Regions from separate parts of the Homo sapiens genome. Here all the other regions are linked to region 3. The links come from fine-mapping of genetic effects on gene expression. A gene starts in region 3. Each other region holds a variant in brackets. All regions are shown on one strand. Distances are from middle to middle. Region 1 has its middle 20 kb from the start of TGM2. Region 2 overlaps KIAA1755. Region 3 holds the start of KIAA1755.

Evidence for each region.
Region 1: its variant is fine-mapped to the expression of KIAA1755 in prefrontal cortex (ROSMAP, PIP 0.95).
Region 2: its variant is fine-mapped to the expression of KIAA1755 in lung (TOPMed, PIP above 0.99).

The regions. Positions count from the first base shown.
Region 1 is chr20:38,181,063-38,189,244 of GRCh38, forward strand. No RefSeq gene overlaps it. Among named protein-coding and RNA genes, the nearest start is that of TGM2, 20 kb to the left of the region's middle. The variant C/G (reference allele first, on the strand shown) is at 3,393.
Region 2 is chr20:38,235,771-38,243,952 of GRCh38, forward strand. KIAA1755 reads right to left here. Exons shown (of 14, transcript NM_001029864.2): 3 at 4,812-6,159; 4 at 3,758-3,955. Among named protein-coding and RNA genes, the nearest start is that of KIAA1755, 21 kb to the right of the region's middle. The variant G/A (reference allele first, on the strand shown) is at 4,833.
Region 3 is chr20:38,255,875-38,264,056 of GRCh38, forward strand. KIAA1755 reads right to left here and starts at 4,861. Exons shown (of 14, transcript NM_001029864.2): 1 at 4,624-4,861. The coding sequence starts at 4,626. LOC124904900 (a long non-coding RNA gene) reads left to right here. Exons shown (of 3, transcript XR_007067581.1): 2 at 1,212-1,389; 3 at 1,755-1,987. LOC149684 (a long non-coding RNA gene) reads left to right here and starts at 4,301. Exons shown (of 2, transcript NR_104170.1): 1 at 4,301-4,482. RefSeq lists an enhancer at 4,619-5,118.

The DNA of each region.
Region 1 (8,182 bases), 75 kb before region 3:
TGATAAATGGAGTGATGGCTGGCACTGATTATCAAGCACTCGGGCATCTCCTCCAATTCTCCCAAAGGCCCCAAGGAAGAAGAGGGTCTGCCATTATCAGTGCCCTGTCCACCGGCAGAAAGTGTGAGGCAGAGCTCGTTGTGGAAAGCAAGGCTCATAATTTACCTCACTAACCTGTGTGGTTCTGGATGGCACAGAGCCAACTGGGACTCTCGTTTTTCTCATTCTGGTCCCTACTCCCTTCTTCGTGTGACCTAAGACCTTAACAGCTGTGTAAGTGAAAGTGGAACAAACAAAGCACCCCCTGAGAGACTTCTCATGATACCAAGGGGCAGCCCCAGAGGACAGACCAACGCTCCTCTCAATCCCTAAAAAGCCTCTGCCTGACTGAGCACAGCTGGGAGCAGTGATGTCAGGCCTGGCTTGGTAGATCAAAGCAGCAATGGCCCCAGGGCCTGATGGGTGCACGGGAGGGGCAGGGCTGAGTAGTTGATCTAGCTCTTAAAGATCCTTGAGCTTGAAGTCACCCTGGGACAGCCTCAGCAAGCGCTCAAGGCTGGCACTTGGGAAAGGTCACATGGCTTTGATGCTTGGCCAGTTTTAGATGGGGAGAAGCACTACTATGTTAGAGTCTAGATTATCTTAGAAACCCAACTCTACCCAGGAGTTCCTGAAGAAAGACCCTGAAATCTCTCAGGCAGCAAACGGAGGTCAACTTGGTCACCAAGCGTGGCTTGGTGCCCACTCTGGACCCAGCTCTGTGCCAGGCCCTGGGGGAGATGAAGAAATGAGGCAGGCCTGTTTTCTTTCTGTGGCTTCAACAGAACATCTGTGGTTTCCCCCTAATTAATCGTAATACATGCTCACTGTTTAAAATTTATAAAATACAGAACAGCCAAAAGATGAAAGTTAAAGTCAATCCAAGTATCACCAACAAAGAGAACAACTGTTAACATTTTGTTTTATCTTGTTCAGTGTTGCTATATCATATTTAGGTGTATGTGTAGATACAAACTCACATAATTATGTATTTAGTTTCTAAAAATGGAATCACTCAATTGTCCAGGAAATGTTTGTTGAACATTCACCCTGTGCCAAGCATGTGGCAGGCAGCGGACCAGAGGATGCGATTCCTACTGTCATGAAAGTTGCCTCTAAGCACTCTTTTGTCCCTTGCCTTTTTTCACTGTGTGCCTAACATTTTCAAATCACATGTATTTCTACAACATATTTATTGGCTATCAAGAATTTCATCACATGGCTGAATTTGTCAAGCCCCACTTTTCTTGCGCATTTAGGTTGCTTCCCATTTTTTCACTACTGCAAACAGTGCCATCCCTGTAGCCTTGGGCTCATAAGGTGGATTGGCTTATTCCATATCAATTTCAACCCCCTCTTATATGCCTTCCTCAACTGCAGGGGCTGGAAGGGTGAAGATTGCATTTCCCAACTCCCTTGCAGCTAGGGTTTAGAGACCAATTAAGTAGTTCCCATTAAATGCATTTGTGTGAGGTTTTGAAGGCAAAAGTAAGAGAGAGGTCATCTTCCTCCTTTTGCTGGTTGTGAAGGCATTGAGACCTCCCACAGGTGTGTCTACAGTGCCTGGTCACCAACTCTTGGGTGTTGAGAAGTGGTGATGGGGCATCAGCCGCATCTGATGGCTGGAGTGAAGCTAAGGTGACAAACTCCTGAAGACAATAGTTCCCAAGCTTCTGGGTGGTGGCAGAGGCAGCAGCTTTCCTGGGCAGGCCAGTTTAGCGGTGACATTCTAAGAATCGCTCCTAGAAGCCCAGGTCCCTTGCTTCAGAATTTTCCATGATTTTGCAAGAACACAACTTCTCGCATTAAATCTCCCTATGTTGAAAGTAGTGAATGTGGTTTCTGTGTCCTGCACCTGCACTCTGGGTGATATAAGCTACATCTTTGAGCCTGTTGGCAACTATTTCCTTAGACTAAATCTCTACCATGGAACTTATAAGTCAAGAATTCATTTTTTTTTGTTTATTTAAATAGTTTTACTGAGACATAATGAACATACCATGTTTAAAGTGTACAATTTGACGTTTAGTGTATTCACAAAGTTGTAGATCTATCATCATCATCTAATTTTGGAACATTTCTTCACCCCAAAAAGAAATTTCATGCCCATTAGGAGTCAATTCCTTACCTCTCTCCCCACTCCTAGGCAACCGTGAACCTATTTCCTATCTTTATAGGTTTACTTATTCTGGGCATTTCATATAAATCAAATTATACAATATGTTATCTTTTGTGGCTGCCTTCTTTCACTTAGCATAATGTTTTCAAGGTTCATCCATGTCGTGGCACATATCAGAATTGTATTTCTTTTTATTACTGGATAATGTTCTGTTATATGAATATACCGCATTTTATTTATCCATTCATCAGCTGATAGACATTCGGGTACTCTCCACTTTTATTTTATTTTTAGAGACAGGGTCTTGTTCTGTAGCCCAGGCTGCAGTGCAGTGGCACAATCACAGCTCACTGCAGTCTCAACCTCCTGGGCTCAAGCGATCCTCCCCCCTTAGCCTCCTGAGTAGCTGGGACTACAGATGCGTGCTACCACACTTGGCTAATTTTATCTTATTTTATTTTATTGTAGAGACAAGGTCTCGCTATGTTGCCTAACCTGATCTCAAACTCCTGGGCTGAAGCGATCCTCCTGCCTCAGCCTCCCAAAGTGTTAGGATTACAGTCGTGGGCTACTGAGCCTGGCTTGTTTCCACTTTTAAACTCTTGTGAATAATGATACTGTGAACATTTGTGTACGTGTTTTTGTGCGGATGTATATTTTAATTTCTCTTGGGGAGGCTTGTGTCAGTGAAAGTTGGGGTGTTGGTCGGGGGCCGAGCAGGCTGTAGTGGTACTTGGGAAGGAGAAGGAAGGGGAATGGAGGCTTACTGTAACATCCAAAAAGCATGATGATAAAATTGCAATTGGATTGTGCCTGCATTTCTTCTGGAAAACAAGACTTGAATGCAAAGACAGCACCAAACAAATCTAGAATGACGAGCCTCAACATGTAGTCTAACAAGATGGTTTCAGGCCCAAGTGATGTAACTGGTGGAATTTGGAGGAAGAATCCTTCCTTTGAAGTTTTTCTATATTGTTGTGCTGAGAACGCTTCATGGTATTCAGTCAACTGGAGCGTGTACGTGGAGTTTTGATATTGCCGCCTGCCTTTGGCCAGCAGAACAGTTTACTCCTCCAAGAGCTCACTCAGGTGAAAAGTCAGGAATTTACTCAGACATTCTGACACATGTGTCATCAATCTTGGCGTTTCCTCCCCCTGACATTGATTTATTACAGTCTCTGGCTCCGTCTATGTGTGGATGGAAGATGTCTGGGAAAGTCAGAGAAGCCTGTTA[C/G]GAGTTTGGTCTCCAAATCCAAGGATTGATATTTTTGCCGGATTGGACTACTTCTGTTTGAAAAAGAGGCCGGGCGTGGTGGCTCATGCCTGTAATCCCAGCACTTTGGGAGGCCGAGGCGGGTGGATCACCTGAGGTCAGGAGTTCGAGACCAGCCTGGCCAACATGGTGAAACCCCGTCTTTATTAAAAATACAAAAAAATTAGCTGGACCTGGTGGCACATGCCTGTAGTCAATCCCAGACACTCAGGAGGCTGAAGTATGAGAATTGCTTGAATCCAGGAGGCGGAGGATGCAGTGAGCCAAGGTCACACCACTGCACTACAGCCTGGGTGACAGAGTGAGACTCCATATCAATACAAAAAAAAAAAAAAACGAAAGAAAAAAAAAAAGAAAAGGGTGGTGGTGGGAGTTATTGTTGGTTATCTCCTGGTACTTGTCTTCCTCTTCTTCTCTAATAAAGGAATTTTTAGCAGAGAAAAAAACATTTCTCTTGGATCTATATACCTAGAAGTGGAATTGCTGGATCACATGGTAACTCAATGTTTAACTTTTTCAGGGACTACCGAACCGCCTTCCAAAGTTGTTGCACGATTTCACATTCCCACTAGCAATGTATGAATTTCCAATTGTTCCATATCCTCGCCAAAACTTAATGTTGTCTCTCATTTTCGTTAGAGCCAGTCTAGTGGGTATGAAGTCATATTTCATGGTTTAGATAGACATTTCCCTAATGACTGAAGATGCTGAACATCTTTTCATGTGCTTACTGGCCATTTGCATGTCTTCTTTGGAGAAATATCTCTTCAAATCCTTTGCCCATTTTTAGGTTATTTGACTTTTATTTATTTATTTAGAGACAGAGTCTCACTCTGTTGCCCAGGCTGGAGTGCAGTGGCACACCCTCGGCTCACTGCAACTTCCACCTCCCGAGTTCAGGTGATTCTCATGCCTCAGCCTACCCAGTAGCTGGGACTACAGGTGCCAGCCACCATGCCCAGCTAATTTTTGTATTTTTGGTAGAGATGGGGTTTCACCATGTTGGCCAGGTTGGTCTCAAACTCCTGACCTCAAGTGATCCACCTGCCTTGGCCTCCCAAAGTGCTGGGATTACAGGTGTAAGCCACTGCACCTGGCCCCTTACATTTTATTATGTATATGAGTTGCAAAGCTTCCTTATATACTCTGGATACAAATCCCTTAATAAGATATGTGATTTTCCTTTTTTTTTAGTTTATGTGGGTTGTCTTTCCACTTTCTTGATGATATTGTTTGCAGCAGAAAACTTTTTAATTGTAATGAAGTTCAGTCTTTTTTTCTTTAGCCATTTGTGCCTTTAATGTTATATATAAGAAGACTTAGATTAACCCAAGGTCATGAAAGTTTAATCCTGTGTTTTTTTCTAAGAGTTTTATACTTTTAACTTACATTTAGGTCTATGATCCATTTTGAGTTGATTTTTGTGTATGGTGTGGATGTGAATATCTAGTTGTCCTAGCACCATTTGTTGAAAGACTCTTCTTTCCCCTGTTGAATGAATGGTCTTGGTACCATTGTTGAAAGGCAATTGGCCATAAGCATAAAGGTTTATCTCTGGATGCTCAATTTTATTCCCTTAATCTATATGTCTATCCTTAGGCTGGTACCAAACTGTCTTGATTACCTGAGCATTGTAGTTAGTTTATTTGGGGTCTCTTGCAATTCCATATGAATTTTAGGATCATCTTGTCAATTTCTGCAAAAAAAAAAAAAAAAAAAAAAAAAAAACCAGCTGGAATTTTGACAGAGATTGCATTGAACCTTTAGACGAATTCCAAGAGTATTGCCATCTTAATAATATTAAGTCCTTTGATCCATGAACATGGAGTCTGCCTCCATTTATTTAGATCTTTCATTTCTTTCAACAATATTTGGTAGTTTTATGTATACAAGTCTTGTATACCTTTTGTTAAATTTATGCTTAAGAATTTATTCTTGTTGATGCTATTGTAAATTAAATTGTTTTCTTAATTTGATTTTAGATTGTTCACTGCTGGTGTATAGAAATATAATTGCTTTTTATGTATTGATTTTACATACAGGTTGCACAACCTTGCTGAATTTGTTTATTAGTTTTAGTAATTTTCTAGTTGATTCCTTACCATTTTCTTGTATATAAAAGATTATATCATCTGCAAATATGGTTTTATTTCTTTCCCATCTGGATGTCTTTTATTTCATATTCTTAACTAATTGCTCTGGTTAGAACCTCCAGTACGATGTTGAATAGAAGTGGCAAGAATGGGCATCGCTGTCTTGTTCCTGATCTTTGGGAGGGAAACATCTAATCTTTTGCCAGGAAGTATGATGTTAGCCGTAGGTTTTTCATCGATGCCCTTTATCAGGTTAAGGGCACCTATTTTTTTGAAGGCTTTTGTTTTGTTGTGTGAATCATGCTTCTTTGAGATACCAGTCATTCTTTCTTGGCTACTCCCTTGGCCACATAATTCCCATGACAAGCTGGGTCACTACAAAGGAATAGCCTTCAGAAATGACCAAAATTCTCCAGGTAATGAAAAATCAGCAGAAAGGGGGAGGAGGGGTGGAGGAGGGAGGGGGGAGGACGGGGGAACACACATCCTCTTCCTTGATCCAATTACAATACTCCTGCTTGTGCAACCAAATACAGAACTGGCCCTTTGGTGACTGTAATTAAAATGTGGGTCCCTGGCTGGGCACAGTGGCTCACGCCTGTAATCCCCAGCACTTTGGGAGGCTGAGGCGCACAGATCACCTGAGATCAGGAGTTCAAGACCAGCCTGGCCAACATGGCAAAACCCTGTCTCTACTAAAAACACAAAAAAATTAGCTGGGTGTGGCAGGATGCGCCTGTAGTCCCAGCTACTCAGGAGGCTGAGATAGGAGAATTGCTTGAAGCCGGGAGGCAGATCGCGCCACTGCACTCCAGACTGGGAGACAGAACGAGACTCCATCTCAAAAAAAAAAATGTGGGTCCCTTTATGAGCTTTCAACTAAATTAGTGGTTCTCAACCCTCAGTCCAAAGCACCCCCCACTTTAATCACTTTTTAATTGAGGTATAGCATTGTGACAGTTGATTCTATGTGTCAACTTGGCTAGGCCACCATCTTTTTAAAGATGAAATTAGTATTTAAATCAGCCGAATTGAGTAAAGCAGATCACGAAGGTAAAGCAGCAGACAGAGTGAAGCAATCTGATTACCGTGTGGGTGGGCCTTGGTCAATCCATTAAAAGCCTTCATAGGAAAGGACTGAGTTCTGCCAGCAGGCGGCCTTCAGACTTGAACTGCAATGTCAGCTCTTTTCTGGGTCTCCGGCCTGCCAGCCTAGCCTGCAGATTTGGGACTTGCCAGCCTCCAGTCATGTAAGCCAATTCCTTAAAATAAAATAAATCTCTCCCCTCTTCTCTGCTCTCTCTGTCTCTCTCTCTGTCTCTCTCTACACACATACACACACACACACACACACACACACACACACCCCTATTGGTTCTGTTTTCTGTTTCTCTGGAGAACCCTAATACGAGCCTATATACAGAAGAGTGCACATCACTGTACAACTTGATACATTTTTACAAACTGAACCCATCAGATCACGAAACAGGAACATGACCATCACCCCGGAAGTTCCCCTTGTGCTTCCATCCACCCTCCATCCCCCACAGGTAATCACTGTCCTGCCTTTTAATAGCATGGATGAGTTGTGCTGATTCTAGAACTTTCTATAAGTGGTGTCACTCAGCACGCACTCTTTTGTGGCTGGCTTCTCTCACTCAACCTTATGCTCGTGTGAGACCCATCTGTACTGCCAAGTGTAGTTGTGAGTGACTGATTCTTCCTTCTGTGGGTGCTCCATTGTGTGGCTCACCTCAGTTTATGCATCCATTCAGCTTCGAGATATTCAAGATATTCATGTTGTTTCCAGTTTGGAACTATTACAAATGGTGCTGCTGTAAACATTCTTGCACATATCTTTTTTTTTTTTTTTTTTTCAGACAGGGTCTCACTCTGTCACCCAGGCTGGAGTGGTGTGCCACCATCAGGGCTCACTGCAGCCTCTACCTCCCTAGGCTCCAGCGATCCTCCCACCTCAGCCTCCCAGGTAGCTGGGACTACAGGTGCGTGCCACTATACCTGGCTAATTTTTGTATTTTTTGGTAGAGACGAGGTTTTTTCACGTTGCCCAGGCTGGTCTCAAACTCCTGGGCTCAAGCAATCTACCACCTCGGCCTCCAAAAGTGTTGGGGTTACAGCCATGAGCCCCTGCACCTGGCCACATATCTTTTGATGAACACGTGAACACATTGTAGCTGGGTTTAAACCCACAAGTGTGATTACCCAAGCCCCCTTTCTCTATCAAACATTTTAAGCTTTCTTTCATTTAAATGTTCGAAATGAAACTTATGGATGATAATGCACACACACATCAATGCAATGTCTCTAATATAAAGGAGACATAAAATGGAAGTGACTTATGATAAAATAATGTGTATTTCAATATATTCTTGGGCACAACGACCCCAGAAGGCATAATGAAGATGCCAGAACCCTGTATGCCCATAATTAGTAAGTCTGGATTCCAGAGATGTAAGTAGACCAGACGCCATGGCACAAAAGAAGTCAGAAAAATGAAATGGCAGGAGGTGAGGGTGAAGATTAAAATCTGCTGTTTGGGCAAGACATAACAGACTTGACTTATTTGTATGTGATAACAGAAAGAAAGACTTTAATTGGAGTAAGGAGAGTACCCCAAGACACGCTGCCGCCTGTCAG
Region 2 (8,182 bases), 20 kb before region 3:
CTTGTTATGGCCACAATGGGAAACACAGTGCCTATTAAACAAAACCCCATCCCCAGCATGGGAGCAGACATTCACACCTGCATGTTGATCAGTTTCTTTCCTGAGAACAGATCTTTATGAAAACTTTACGGGGAGACCTGCTTCACAGGGCTGGCTTGGAGCAGATCTAGATCTTGAAGCACAGGCTCTGGGGACTGTTTGCCCTATAAGGAAACTCCAACAGAGGCCGGTGTGGACGCAGAGACACCAGCGAGGAGACCACTGCAGCAGGCAAGAGACCACGCTGGTTTGGACTTGGGTGGGGTGAAGTCAACAGATTCTGAATACAATTTAATGGGAGAGTTGACAGTTAACAAATTGAATGTGGGATGTAAGAGAAAGAGCAATCAAGGATGATGTGGTCATCTTTTACTGCCATGAGGAAAGACTGGAAGGTTGGGAAGTGTGGGGTGAGGGGATGTGAAGTCAGGAGTCCATATTTGGGCATGCTAAGTTAGAGATGTCTGTGAGACCTCCACGCAGAGACATCAAGTAGTAAACAGCTGGATGGATAAGTCTGGAGTTCATGGCCAGGGCCCAGGCTGGAAAAATCAGTGTCGGGGTTGTCAGCCTGGAGAGAGCATTTACAGAAAATATTCCACCTCCAGGATGAGATCGCCTAGGAAGTGAGTGTGGATGGAGAGGAGAAAGGGACCAAGGACTGGGCTTTGGGGGCCCTCCAGGATTTACAGGTTGTGGAGATGAGGAGACAGGAAAGGAGGCTGCAAAATTGTGGCCAGTGAGGTGAGAGGAGGACTGGGTGACTGAAGATCTAATGGCAAGTGAAGAAAGCCTTTCAACAGGAGGAAGTGGCCATCCATGCCAAATGCTGCGGAAGGGCCTAGGGTGATGAGGACTGAGAATCGACCCCTGGATCTAGAAACATGGAACGCAATGACGACCTTGACAAGACGTGTCTCAGTGGCACAGTGGGGAAGGGATTCTGATTAGAGTGAGTGGAAGAGAGAAGGTGTGGAAACAGGGAACACAGACAACTGCTTTGTGGAGTTTTAATGTAAAAGGGTGAGGGTGGGAACACGGGGGCCTAGAATAGCTCATTTCAAGCTGGGCAATATTGCAGCGTGTTCTCATCCTGATGGGAATGGCCCAGAGCCAAAGAGGAAAGATGATCCTGTAGGAAGGAGAAGAGAATCTTGCTGGAGGGATGTCTTTGAGGAGGTAAAGAGGAACAGAGCACGGGTTCAGGGTCAGCCTCAGGCACATGGACAATTCATCCATACTAGAATGCTGAGCCTGTGGGTACAGATGCCAGCAGGTAGGTGAATGACCTTCCTTCTGGTCTGACTGAGTAAGCAGAAGCAATTCATAGACTTCCTTCCAATTGCTTCTGCTTACTCACTCAGACCAGAAGGAAGGTCATCAGCTGAGATTTAAGTTGGGGAAGGTGGTGTTGAAGGTCAAAGGAGAGAGAAGGTGTGAAGTCATCACACAGGACTGTGGGGGAGTCATTCAGGACTCTGGAGGTGAAGTAGGATCCACTAGCACCATTGGGACCCCCAGAGGTCAGTGGTCAGGAATTCAACACAATTAGCCTGCACAATTGTGTGGATTTTTCCAGCTTCGTTCAGCTTGAGGGTGCAGGTGGAGAGTTGGATCTCACGGAGGTTGGGATTTATCTGGGTAAGTGTGAAGGTGGAAGAGGAAAGCAAGCGAGTGAGTGTTTGAAAGGAAGTGATTACAATGTGAGCCTGGAATCTAAGCTAGGAAGAAGGGATGTGAGGATGTGACAGAAGGTGGGGGAGACATAATGATGGGGAAGGGATGTGGTGGAGAGTGAGGAAGATATGATGATGGGGAAGGGATGTGGTGGAGGGTGGGGAGACATGCTGGAAAAGGGGAGTGAAAAGGTGGTTGAACCAATAGGTTCAAGGTTTTGGGAGGCCTGAAGATGATGAAACTTGGGGCAGTGGGTGACCTGGAAAGAGAAGCAGTGGTAATAAAGGAGAGGGAGCCTTAACATGAAAACCCGGCGGGGAGAAGTTGGTTACGGGGGATGCGATGGGGGGAGTCATGTGGGGAATGAGGACAAGATCACTAGAGAAGAGCAGGACAAAAAACGGACAGAAGGAGCACGCATGTGGACGTTGCTCATTCACACAGCAAATGCTTTTTGCACACATGCTACACATCAGGCATGTGCGAGCTAACAGTGCATGTTGCAACCCCCAAGAATTACAACAAAAGTAACTGAGGGAAGAGTGACAGTGAGCCAGGTCCTATCTGTCTATTCTCCTCCTCTCAAGGAGGCCCAGAGAGGGCAGTGACTTCTCCAAGGACACACAGGGAGCTAATGATAGAGTTAGAACTAAAACAAAGGTCACCTTCCTCCCATAGCAGAGCCTTCCATGGACAAAATCTGAGCCCTTGGCCCATGATGGCCCTAAGAGGATCATGAGATCCTTTGTGTACAATTAATATGGAACAAACAGCAGGAGCTTCAGCAAAGATGACCAGGAAAATGACAGATAAGGTCTCCTGGGAGCTGCAAAAAGACAGGGCAGTGCTCAAGGTCCTGAAGAGATATGGAAGTCTGTGAAGTAAAATAGTATTTCAGGACAATCAGTCTCCAGAAAGCACTGTGGTTCTCTTGTCTCTGGACCTTTGCACATGCTGTTCCCTTTGTCTGGAACGCCGTTCCCAACTCTTCACCTGGATAATTCCTACTCATACCATAGGACTGGGCTTTACGTTACTTCCTCCGGGAAGTCATCCTTGACCTCTACTACCCTAAGCCTGAACCAGGGGACTCATCTGTGCTCCCACAGCCCCCTGTCCTTCCCAACTGTCACACTTTGTTTACACTGGGTTTCAATAATCTGTTGTGATAACCTGTTGGCTTTTCCCCACCACTAGAATATAGGTTTCCTGATAGCAGAGAACACATCAGACTTGTTCTCTTATGAATCGCCAGTGCTAAGCCCAGGAACCAGTAAATGTCTGTTACAACAATGGGGAAATATTAAATACGAGTGATAAGACCTTCTGTATTGGATGCTGCTAGTACCCCAAACCCAGATCCCCTCAGCAGGCAGAGAACCCATCCCCAGAGTCTGAAAGTATCAGTTGTCAGTGGCTCACAGATGCCCCCTCTCTGAAGAAGCACTCTGGGCTGAACTGGATCACTGGCTCCCCCTGCCCCACCCCATTCCAGGATCAGCCCGAAGTTCCTGCAGTTCATTAATGACGGACAGACTGGGGATCAGCCCACAGTTAATGACTGACAGACAAGGCTTATAAAAGGCCAGTCCCCTACACCTTCAGCTGGAGCCAGCTCTGTGGGGCGGGTCATGCCCCAGTGCTCTCCTTGGGGTCAGCCCACAGCCTTGCTTGGCTCCTTCCCCTGCCTTGACCCTCTGTCCTTCTCCTCAGAGCCCTCCTCCAATAGGTCACTTTCCCAAAAATCTATGTCTCAGGCTCTGCTTCTGGGGAACCCAGTATCCACCTTGGCTGCTTCACTGATGGATGGACAAGTAGACAGATGGACAGACAGATAGATGGGTGGATGGATACCAACAAATTGCTTTCATCTATTCCAATTCTCCCATGGGAAAGATGAGGAAACTGAGGCCCAAGGAGGCTTGGTCTAGAACCTAGGCCTCCAGGGCATTCCCTGCCTCCCCTCCACCCAACAGCAGCTGAAGATGCTCTGGGGCCCCCAGCTCCCTCCCTACCACCTCCTGCTTGAATCCCCTGGAACCTGGCAGGCATGCTATCCTGGAGCGGAAAACCTTGACACCTAGAGCCCCAATCCTGGGCTCAGGCCCTGGGGGCTCCTCCTCCAGGGTGGGGCCTCTTTCTGGGGAGCCTGCAGAAGCTTCTGGCAAGGCAGCCTTTTCCTCAGTCAGTGGGCTGGGGGCAGTGGCTGGGCCAGATGTTTTGGTCTGAGTTGTTCCAGCTGGGAAAAAGCAACAACAAAGAAAAGGACGTTAAGCAGAAGATGGGCTTTCTAAGGGGAAAACGTCTCCTCTTTCTCTTTCTGACTAATAATAGCTTACAACTATTGATCTCTCCCATGTGCCAGGCATTGCGCTAAGCCCCTTACTTCTAGTGTTACCCCTCCCCACACCTCACTTTTTTTTCTTTAGTGACAGAGTCTCACTCTGTTGCCCAGGCTGGAATGCAGTGGCATGAACATAGCTCACTGCAGCTTTGAACTCCTGGGCTTGAAAGATCCTCCCACCTCAGCCTCCCGAGTAGCTGGGGCTAAAGGCATGCACCACGAAGCCCAGCTTTTTTATTTATTCCTTCCTTCTTTCCTTCCTTCCTTCCTTCCTTCCGTCTTCCTTCCTTCCTTTTTTCCTTCTTTTCTTTCTTTCTTGTAAATTCCTGGCCTCAAGCCACCCAAATTCTCCCGCTTCAGCCACCAAAGCACTGGGATTACAGGATAAGCCTCTACACCTAGCTTCTGGTGTCGCTTTGAACCCTCAAAATAACACTGTGAAATAGGTGACATTCCCATTGCACAGATAGGGAGAACGTGGACTCAGAGAAACTCAGTACTTGGCCAACGTCACACAGCCAGTGTATGGCAAAGGTGGAGTGTGAACTCAGGCAGTTGTAACACAGTCACAGTGCCTTGCTCAATTCCAGACACATGAGACTTCAAGCCCCTTAACATGCCACACTGTATACTAAACCCCTGAAGCTGAGCCAGCCCAGGTGGTCTCTATCACTTACAACCAAAACCACCTAAAATGTGATCTCAACCAGACAATAACCTCCTTGTACAGCTGAGCATGTGGGCATCTTACCTTTCCCCAAAGATTTGGCTC[G/A]GTTGGGTTTAGGAGAGTAGAGGGAACACAGGACTTTCCAGGGCCCATTGTGCTGGAGTGAGGCTTTCTCCGGGGTCACAGAGGGTTGCCTCTGCCCTCTCAAGAATGAGAATTTGAGCCCAGGAGTGGGGGGCTCAGGGGAGGAGGTGTTTCTGCTAGGGCAGGGCATGGGCTTGGGAAGTCTCCCATTTCTCTCTTTGGTCTTCACCTCTATCTTTGTTTCAGAGGCTGCAGCTGCAGGAGAAGCTGGGGACAGGCGGGGAGAGGAGGCTTGTCTTGGTCCAGGCCTGAGCTGCACCATATTCTCTGGGTTTCCTAGAGGTCCCTGCATCTTGGAGGCAGCTGGCTCTTGTGAGACACCTGCCCTGAGACCAGAGGCACAGTCCAGTGCGTCCTCAAGGACATTCATGTAGGAGCCTTGGGGCGGCCTTTCTGAGTTGTGGGTGGGTGCTTTAAGATTGACCTTTCTCCTGAAGCCCAAATTATAGGGCCTCTCCTCAGAGCTTTCTGGCTTTGTGCAAGCCCGATTTCCCAAGGAAGGTCCTTCATTGGCCTCTGAGAGAGGCAGTATCTTTTGAAATAAGGGAGTTTCCTTAGTTCCAGCTATCTCCTCTAGTGCCCCAGAAGTACACCCACTGGATGTGCCTGCCTCCCTACTGGGAGACTCTCCTCTGCTCTCTTGGGAAAAGCCTAGGAGAGCCACATAGTCTCCCTCGAAGTCCTGGCTGACCACCTCGTCCATCCTGAAAGCCACCTCCCCACACCGGGCTTGCTCCACCTTGATGAGTCCTGGATACTTGCTCCCATATGTCCTGCCCTTACCCTTGGCCAAACTCTGGGCAGGAAGCACCTGGTTGTCTGGGGAGCTGGCCTGGTGCAACTCTTGAGGGCTGCTCAAATCCAGTGCCTCTAATGGAAGGGGCCCCCAGGCTTGGCAGAGGGCATTCACTACTTGGGGTCTGTCATCCACAAACTCTGGGCTGGTTATCTTGGTCCAAGGCACAGGGGCAATCCCATTTTCTGATGCTACCAAGCAGTTGTGTAGGGGATTTCCCTCAAAGTCACTGTTGATGGCCTCCAGCCATTCTTGGGTGAAAAGTATAGGGTAGGCTGGCTCTGGAACAGGCTTCTTGTCCACTGTGCAGAGGTCCAGGGAGAGGCATTTGATCATGATGCAGACAGACTGCTCCTCCTGGGGCTCCACTTGGAGGTAGAAGTCACCCTGGCGCAATAAGAGAGGGTTGAGGGGTGCCAAGTGGACCACAACTTCATCCCTCAGACAGAGTGGCCAGCCCTCGTGTAAGAAGAGGCAGTGTGAGTAGGGAGCCTGTGGAGAGAAGGGGATGGCATCAGAGAACCTGGCCCTGAAAGGCTCCACCCTTGGATTTGCTCCTTTCCCTCTCCCACGTGGAATCTGGAACAGGTCAGGGACTAGGATGAGGCAGCATTTAGGAGGCACTCACTGTCAAGGTTGTGCAAAGGTTGACTCTCCTGCCCCACCCTCGTCCTGGCCCTGACCTTGGAAATCCTAGCCTACTGACCCAAGTGAGAAAGCTCAGAGCACCATGCACTAGTTAGCAATCGGCTTTCCCAAGTGGTCCCCTTGCTTGGCTCATGCTCCCTTCCTCTCTGCATCTATCCAGAACATTTCCCAACCCAATTCAAGTCTTAGCCCTCCATTTTAAAGCCAGGGAGACGTGGTTTAGACAAACGTCTATGTTGCTAATTTGTGCAAATTGCTTAACTTCTTTGAGCCCCAATTTCCCTATCTGCAAATAGGATAATAATACATGTCAGTATTACTGGGTTGGTATGAGGATTAAGTGAGATTATACAGATGGCCTCAATTTATGGTGGGGTTATATCCTGGTAAATCCATCATAAATTGAAACTATCATAAGTCAAAAATGCATTTAATGTACCTAATCTACAGAACATCATAGCTTATTTAGACTAGCCTATCTTAAAAGTGCACAGAGCACTTACATCAGCCTACAGTTGGCCAAAATCATCTAACACAATGCCTATTTTATAATAAAGTGTTGAACATCTTATTGAATTTGGATAGTGTATGAGGGTGAAGTAGAAACAGTATTGAATGAGAAGTCAGGAAATCTGACCCTGCCACTAACTTACTAGATGGCTGTCCAGTTTTTCCTGACCCAAAGGTTATTCTGGGCCTGAATGTTTATTTTTTATTTGTTTGTTTATTTATTTCTCATTAAATAAATGAAGGCTTATTTGTTTATTTTTTATTTATTTCCCATTAATGGATAATAACACGAAGGTGAAGCAAAACTTTAAAAAGAAATTTTTTTTTAACAGGAGTTGCCAGAAATTCCCTGTATAGGTGGGTACAGAGGGTCATTCTGGAACAGGCTGTGACCCAAGTGATCCCTCTCAGTTGAGCCTGTCCACTGGGCTGTGCGGGACCAGTGTTCAACAGTGACACCATGTGGCAACAACGGAAACAACAGCTCCACTGGGCTGACAACAGGTCTTTAACTGGCTTTTGGAAAAAGAGTCTGAGTTCTGTGGATTGAGTAAGTCCCAGACAATCTTATATAATTTGGATGTGTGTAGGGGAGATGTACAGAGAGTGAGACTGAATTTCCTGCTAATTAAACAGGTGTTTCCTGGAATTATTGATTGCGGAAATAGTGAGATCTGACCATAGTTATACCTTATGTTGATAAACCCATTTATATCAGTCATATTGTAGATTGGGCTGCCTCAGAGAAGCTTAATATCCATAAACCTTCATGAGTCTGTAGGTTTTCTCGACCCTTTTCACTTAGCCCTCTTGGGTTTGCAACATGCTTTCTCTCTCACCTTCTCATTGAATGAGAAAAAACAGCCCAGCCATTTTTTGCAAACAGCAAAGCACCAGAGTGATGATGGCTTTGCTCATCTCACTTGACTTTCACAGTAACTCAGTTTGATGTAGGCAGTCCAGGCATTATTATTTTCATTTTACAGATGATGCAACTGAGGCTCAGTGTGGTGAAACATTTGGCTCATAGCCACACAGCTGATAAGCATCAGGGACTTGGACCTAGGCCTTCACATTTCAAGTCAGCTGTATCTGTCCCCAAGCCCCACCAGACTTCATGTGAAGGTGGCTGCTTCTGGGTGATGGTGGCTGGAGAGGCAGACTTTGAGGCTGCCATGCTCTTATTTCAGATGGAGAAACAAGGAAGTGGGATAGCGATAGCCAATAGCTACTGGGCACTTGCTGCATGCCAGAGTCTTTGCTAAGCCATGTGTTGTCATCTCCATGTGTTGTCATCTCCATGTGTTAGGTGCTGTGTTATTAACGTTTCTGCTTGACACATAAGGAAACTGAAACT
Region 3 (8,182 bases):
TGTTCCTTTCTCTCCCTCTCCCCTTTTCCTCTGCCTTGGGCTCACCATCTCCCACCCAAACCACATCATGATCACAATTGTAACCAGAGCTGCTTCCTACTGTCTTGTGTGTTAGGCCCCTGCTAAGCATTTTTCATTAACTATTTTATCTCAATAATTCTATGGGCTGGGTATTTTTATTCCCATTTTACAAGTTAAGAAACTGAGCTCAAGGCTCTACTGCTACTAAATGGTAGCACTGGGGTATGACCCTGGGCACATAACCACCAGCTGTCCTGTCTCTTTCCCCGGGCTCCCTGCTACCACGCCAGGCTCCTCTTAGTCATCATAGTGGGCTTCCTAACACAGAGATCCAACTGTGACCCTCCACTGCTCAACAACCTCGGGTGGCTCCCTATTGCCTTAGCAACTCACTGGTCTGGTGCTGTGGCCCGTCAGTCAGCTCCCAGCTTACCTTCCCTACTTCTTCTAAACATACTTTATGCTGTAGCCCAAGGCTTTCCAATCATCATGGGCCCCTTTCATGAGGTTCTTTCTGCCATGTTCACATATTCTAATTTGTTATTGGCTTACTCTTTTTTATTAATTATTATTTACTTAACGTTTGACTTTTTGTCAATTCTTTTTCAACTTAAATCTATTTTTTGGCTGGGTGTGGCGACTCATGCCTATAATCCCAGCACTTTTGGGAGGCCAAGGCAGGAGAATCGCTTGAGCCCAGGAGTTCAAGACCAGCCTAGGCAACAGAGGGAGGCCCTATCTCTACAAAAAATAAAAAGTTAGCTGAGCATGGTAGCACGCACCTGTAGTCCTAGCTGCTTGGGAGGCTGAGGTGGGAGGATTGCTTGAGCCTGGGAGATAGAGGCTGCAGTGAGCTATGATCATACCACTGTACTCCATCCAGCCCAGGTGATGGAGCGAGACCCTGTCTCAAAACAAAAAATTATTTATATTTATTATTATGTGTTTGTGCTGTTTAAATTCCTTCCTAATACTCATTAAGATGAAAAGCTGTAAACTAAAAATTGTTCATCTAAGTGCCATCTAAAATCTCCCCTCCTGGAACCTTTGGTGGATGCCACATCTTGGAAAGTGCTGCCTGGACACACATCTGTGTCTCTGCTTCCACTGCCCCACTCCCTGGACTGAGCAACCTCCTGCCCACCCTTCAGAGCCCTTCCAGACTTGCTTCTCTTCTCTTTGCTTTTCAGGACACATGTGCTTCCAGGCAGAAGGATGGACCCCCACCACCCATCAGACACAGCCTAGAATTATCTGTGGATGAACCTGCCTTCTCCATGGACTGCCAGCCCCCAAAGCAGGAACCACGTCCTTATAGAGGGCCTGGCACACAGTAGGGAACTGGGGTGGGGTACTGCCATGCAGCAGGTATGTGGGCAATGTTGAATGGATTAAACTGAACTTGGCTAGGGTGGTGGCTCATGCCTGTAAACCGAGCACTTTGGGAGGTTGAGGTGGGAGGATCACTTGAGGTCAGGAGTTTGAGACCAGACTGGCCAACATGGTAAAACCCCATCTCTACTAAAAATGCAAAAATTAGCTGGGCCTAGTGTCACACACCTATAGTCCCAGCTACGCAGGAGGCTGAGGCATGAGAATTGCTTAAACCTGGGAGGCAGAGATTGCAGTGAGCCAAGACAGTCCCACTGCACTACAGCCTGGGCAATAGAGCGAGACTCCATCTAAAAAAAAAAAAAAAAAAAAAACCTGAACGTGACCAGTTTTTCTCACAGGTGGCCCACAAAACAATTTTGGGAGAACATAGATTGATGTGAAATCACAGCGAGAAAGTTACTCCAGTTCTCTTCCATTCCTCACGATGACACCAAGGACAATACCTCAGTCTGGAGCCAGTCTATCTCGAAGACCTCTCAGGCACTTACTCATCACTCTGTTTAACAAAAGAAAACAGTCCTCGGGCTTGAAATTGTTCACCACCAACCTCATCCAGCCAGAATTTACTAACACAGATTTGCCTTCATTGAGTACATATTTTTATAGTTACTTTTTTTTTTTTTTTTGAGACAAAGTCTCGCTCTTGTCCTCCAGGCTGGAGTGCAATGGTGCGATCTCGGCTCACTGCAACCTCCGCCTCCGGGGTTCAAGTGATTCTCCTGCCTCAGCCTCCCGAGTAGCTGGGATTACAGGCACCTGCCACCATGCCCGGCTAGTTTTTTCTGTTTTCAGTAGAGACGGGGTTTCACCATGTTGGCCAGGCAGGTCTTGAACTCCTGACCTCTGGTGATCCGCCAGCCTCGGCCTCCCAAAGTGCTGAGATTACAGGCGTGAGCCACTGCGCCCGGCTTAGTTACTTTCTATTTATGACAATGGATACTGATTTTTTCATGGTTGTGATATAAAATTTTCTATTTAAATATATTTTTCAGTGTACAAAGTAAGTTGATTTAAAGAAAAATATTGAGCAAATAATAAGTAGTAGATTTTATCATTTTCTTATATATTTTATCCAGTAAGTGGATGTGTAAAAGTTGTTTCAGTGATACTAACATTTGGGAACCATGGGACAGGATCAACCCTAAGCCCCTTTGCCATAAGATTCTCTGACATGGGGGTGCCCCCAAACACTAGACAGCTGTTAATCAAATGCCCCACAAAAATTACAGCTATGATGGGTTATCATAAAGGAAAGATACATGACATGCTAGAGTAAGAGTCAGGGAAATCAGGGAAGGCTTTCCTGAAGAGGTGACATTTGGGTGAAGATTTACCGGGTAAATAAGAATTCATTAGGTGAAGGTATTCCTCCAAGCAGGAACAGCATGTGCAAAGGCCCTGGGGCAGCAGGGAGCGTGAACCATAAGAGGCTCGCAAGCAAGGCTGGAGTGGCTGGAGCACAGAAGTGAGGCCAGGGAGGTAGGCTGGCAACAACCTTTATTCTTTAAAAAACAGGCAAGGGAAGGAAATCTGCACATTGTTCCCAATCTGGAAAGAGTTGCTCACCCTTTGACAGGGGGCAGACCAGTGCCTGACCCTTGATCTGAGGATCTGGGGTTCAATGAGGGGTTTCTAATGACTAGGTTAGGTGTGAAAGCAGGAGAGGCTTGGCAAACACCAGGTGCACGCTGTGGCCCTGGAGTGACCATGACCGCCGAGTGCAGGCTCAGAATTCAGACTGTCCTAACTTGCACTTTCTGGGTGGGGTGACCTTGGGCAGCTACTTAAGTTCCCAGAGCCTGAGGTCCCCATCTGTTGGAGATAGCCGCAGGTCTAATCTTAGAGTTGGTATGAGTTACTGACTCCTGGATGTAAATCACCTAGCACAGGGCCTTGCCTGTAGGGAGAGGTGAATAACCACTGGCTTATGAGAGTATTTTCAAACAGCTCCAAGAGCCATGTGTGTGTACACCTGTCCCCGCAGTGCATGGATGTAGGTGCCCGGTTTTGCAATATGTCTGTGGTGTGTATGCCAATGTATGCCCATAGTTTAGCAGTATGGGGGAGCAGGTGCAGAAGGCATGGGTGTATGAGAGGGTGTGAACATGTGTTCAGCTGTGTGAGTCAGTGGGAGCATTCAGGTGTGCTCTGTGCGTGCATGTGTATGTGTGTGTGCATGTGTACGTGTGTGTGCATGTGTACGTGTGTGTGAGTGCCTGCGTGTGTGTGTGTGTGTGTGTGAGAGAGAGAGAGAGAGAGTATGAACACCTCTATATGGAATTCTTCTGCTTGTGGAGATGCATTTGCTGTGAGTGAAAACCCACACAAATTCAACATGGTTGGTCACAGTCACAGGGTTAAAGCCTTGGCCTGTCTTCACAGCTTTTTTCAAAATCCTTACAGCCCCTGTGAATCTGCCTGGGGCTCTTGTATCTGTCTGGAGCTGGGCTGAAATCCTCCAAAAACAGACTTTTCTTTCATTCCCTGTTGCCAGATACTGGCACAAACGCATCCCTGCCACCACCACCACCACACACACACACACACACACACACACACACACATTCTCCCAGAATGTCTCAACTTTTTTCAAGGTTCCAGCTCCAAAAGTCCCTTCCTCTTCCCTCTCCCCAGCCAATTCCCATGGAAGCACCCTGGGTTTCAATGTGTATATCTGACTTTCCATAGCTGAGTCTAAAACAGCAAAAGCATCCCAAGTTTTGGTAAGCAGTTCTCTCCTTTTCACCCTGGACCCTTAACCCTCCTCGCCCTGCACTGCCTGGCTGGCCTGGGAGGGGACTTTAACCCCCACCACCACTCTTCCCCATCCAAACTCCCTGCCGGGACAATGTGCATATCACAGTCAGTTCCAAAACAAACATGCAAAACCACCCCGTTTCAGCCCTCAGCCTCAGGGCTGAGATTCAGGCTCAGGTCTAGGGGTTGGGGAATATTAAAGTTTACAAGTACAATCTTACTCCATCCATACACACACATGGAGAAGCCAGGAGAGGACGCGGCCAGAGATGGGCTCCTGCCCTTGAACCCCTGCTGGGGTGGAAGCAGGTAAGCACAACCCTGCCAAGGCACTGAGGGTCGTCTCAGTGTAAAAGGCCAGGGCCACCCGGGGCTGTTCTGCAGGGAATGGGGAGGGCTGTGCCCACTGAAAGGGGGCAGAGCGAGGTGGTCCAGGCCTTGGCGCGTTACCATGGTGACGGGCTGCCAGCGGCGGGCGGCGCGGCTCCTCTCCTGGGCGCGGGGTCTGTGGGTCCGCGGGTCCGTCTGTCTGGGGCAGCCCTCGGTCCCGCCTAGCCCTGGAGCCAGGGGATAGGGCAGGCCCGGGGCACCGACCCCGGCGTCATCTCGGAGGAGCGGCCGGGGAGGACAGGGAGAGAGACTGAGAGAGAGACAGAGAGGGACTGAGGCTGGAGACGGCGAGAGACATAAGGGAGCCGCGGGCGGCGCGGGTCGGGCCACCAGACGGGGGGCGGCAGCAGAGGCGGGGCGGGGCGGGGCGCGGCGGGACAGCGGCCCCTTTGTGCCTGAGCCCTTTGTGCCCAGCCCGCGCGCCCCGCCCCCACCGCCCCCCCTTCCCTCCGTCCACCCCCTCAGCAGCCAGCTGGAACCCGAGGAACCCGAGTCCGCCCCGCCAAGTTTTCCTCCCCGCTCCTCGCTCTTCCCACGGCGCACCCGGCCCGGACAGCCCCATTGTACAGACCCGCAGAGCGAGGCCTCGAGCCGCAGCAGCCGGGTTAAGCGCCCGCGGACCTCGCTGGCAGGCCCAAGTTCGAGTCTCCTCCTCCTACACTTCCCAGGGAGTCACAGACTCTCTTAAGCTTCGATTTCTTCATCTGTAAAATGGGGTGGGAGGAGGATGATGATGATGATGATGATGATGATGATGATGATGATAGTGCCTGCTGCTTAGATTTGGTGATGAGGAGTAAGCATCTGTCCCAGCGCCCTTGAATTCTCCCACATTATGCCCCATCATGACGGCCTAATTCAAGGCTTTGAGGTGATGATGGCTGTGTGCGAGTTCTGTTCTTGACTCTCAGATAATGACCTTGGCCAAGTCGGTATTTCCTACTGAGCCTCAGCTTTGGAGTGAGACTAAGAAACTAGATGACCGCTAGGGTCTATATGTGTGTGTCCCCTCCCAAATTCGTATGTCCAGACCTAATCCTCAGTATGATGGCATTAGGAGGTGGGGCCTTTGGAAAGTGATTGGGTCATGAGAGGACAGAGCCCTCACGAATGGGATTAGTGCCTCTCTCTATATATATATATACACCTACATATATATACCTATATATATACATATATACACCTATATATATACATATATACACCTATATATATACATATATAGGCACTAATATGTATAGGCATATATACACACACATATATATACACACACATATATATACACACATATATACATATATATACACACACACGCACACACATATATATTTGAGATGGAGTCTCACTCTGTTGCCCACCCAAGCTGGAGTGCAGTGGCATGATCTCAGCTCACTGCAACCTCTACCTCCCAGGTTCAAGCAATTTTCCTGCCTCAGCCTCCCGAGCAGCTGGGATTTTAGGCACCCGCCACCACACCTGGCCAATTTTTGTATTTTTAGTAGAGACTGCATTTCGCCATGTTGGCCAGGCTGGTCTCGAACTCCTGACCTCAGGTGATCTGCCCACCTCACCCTCCTAAAGTGCTGGGATTACAGGCGTGAGCCACCATGCCCAGCTTAGTGCCCAAGAGGCCCCAGAGAGCTAGCTGCCTTGCCCCTTCCACCATGGAAGGACACAGCGAGAAGGGGCTGTCTATGAACCAGAAAGGCCCAGAAACATAAGGTCCAGAAAGAAGGCTCTTACCAAACACCCAACTTGCTTGTGCCTTGATCTAGGGCTTCCCAGCCTCCAGAACTGTGAGAAGAGAATTTCTGTTGTGTATAAGCCCCTCAGTCTAAGGTATGTTGTTATAGCAGCCCAGACTAAAACAGTGACCAAAGTTATTCCTGGTTAGATGGCTCAGGGTTTTGTCCATTTATTTATCAAACACTGTGCACTGAGTCAGCCTGTCTCCCCCACTAGACTATACATTACTTGAGAGTCCCGGCCCTCAAGTAATGTACAGTCTAGTGGGGGAGACAGGCAAGGAGCAGATAAACAGGAAAAATAAAAAAATAATAACTGTGGTAACTGCTAAGAAGGAAACAAACAAATGTTGACATTGGGAACAGTAGAGGGATCAACTTATAGCTGGTGGTCTAGGAAGCCTGGGTCTGAAAGCCTAGATCTGAAAGGGGAGGAATTAGAAGAGTGGAGATGGGGAGACGCAGAGGAACCAAGTTCTAAGCAGAGAGAACCGCATATGCAAAGGCTCTGAGGCAATATTAAGCTTAAAGGAGCTGGGGAGTAAGTGAAGAACTGAAAAAGACGAGTGTAGTTGTAAGGGTTAGAGTTCAGACCCAAGCCTTATTCACAGCCCATCTCCCACCCCACATAGGTTAATCAGTCTTTTAGCAGAGAAAACCTGAATTAGGAGCCATCCTATCCCAACTTTTGATAAGTTCCTTCACATCCCCGACCTTCACTTGCTTATCACTAATTTGGGACTAATAATCCCCTGCAATATTTCCACAGCCCAGCAATCAAGTAAACTCTCTCTACAGGAGATGGTCTGGATGGTTTTAGTATCATGACTCCAGATGTGAATTTAGGAGAGAACAGACTTGATGTTCAGTACAGAATTCCACTGAGAGTTGTGGGGTCACAGCTTGAAGGTTTTAGAGTCCCAGGTTGCCATGAGACAGAATTGACATGACAGCCAGCGTTCTGGGGTTGCAGGCAACAGAAGCGGATTCTGAGTTAATTAAGCAGAAAAGAATGGATTGGCAGTCAGAGAATCAATGCGAAGGCTGGGGCCTATCCTCTGGAAAGCACTGGAGTAAGTAGGATGCTCTGGGGGGTCTCGTTATCGGAAAGAGTTGGAAACGTTTGAACACATGGAATTACATTAAGACAAACAAACACACCAAAGTAGAACTTTATATGTGTCAGGTAGTTTTCTAAGTATATAACAGTTATGAAGTAGATTCTATTATTGTCCTCACTTTACAAATGAAAAACTAAGGCACAGAGAGGGTATGTAGCCTGCCCAATGTCAGATAGCTAGTAAACTGTGGATTTCAGAATTGGACACAGCTATCCAATTCCGTAAGTTATGTTATTAACCACTTTGCTATGCTACCTGCATAAATCCTAACCATTCTCTCTGCCCTTGTGTTCCTCACTGATGGACTCAGAACCTTAAAAGAGCCAGGCATGGTGGCATGCTCCTGTAGTCCCAGCTACTTAGGAGGCCAAGGTGGGAGGATCACTTGAGCCCAGGAGTTCAAGGCTGCAGTGAGCTATGATTGCACCATTGCACTCCAACCTGGGAGACAGAGTGAGACCCCATCTCTAAAAAACAAACAAACAAAATAAAACCTTTATAGAGAAATTCTAATTGCGTCATGTGCCCAGGGCCTCACTAAGACTGCACCTACACATATCAGGAATAGTTGGTCACCCAAAAGGAAATTAAATTGCATAAGAAGGAGAAGAAATGAATATGAAATTGTCCATAAACAAGTGCAATTACAGCCTGGGCACAGTGGCTCATGCCTGTAATCCCAGCACTTTGGGAGGCCGAGGTGGGCAGATTGCCTGAGCTCAGGAGTTTGAGACCAGCCGGGGCAACATGGCA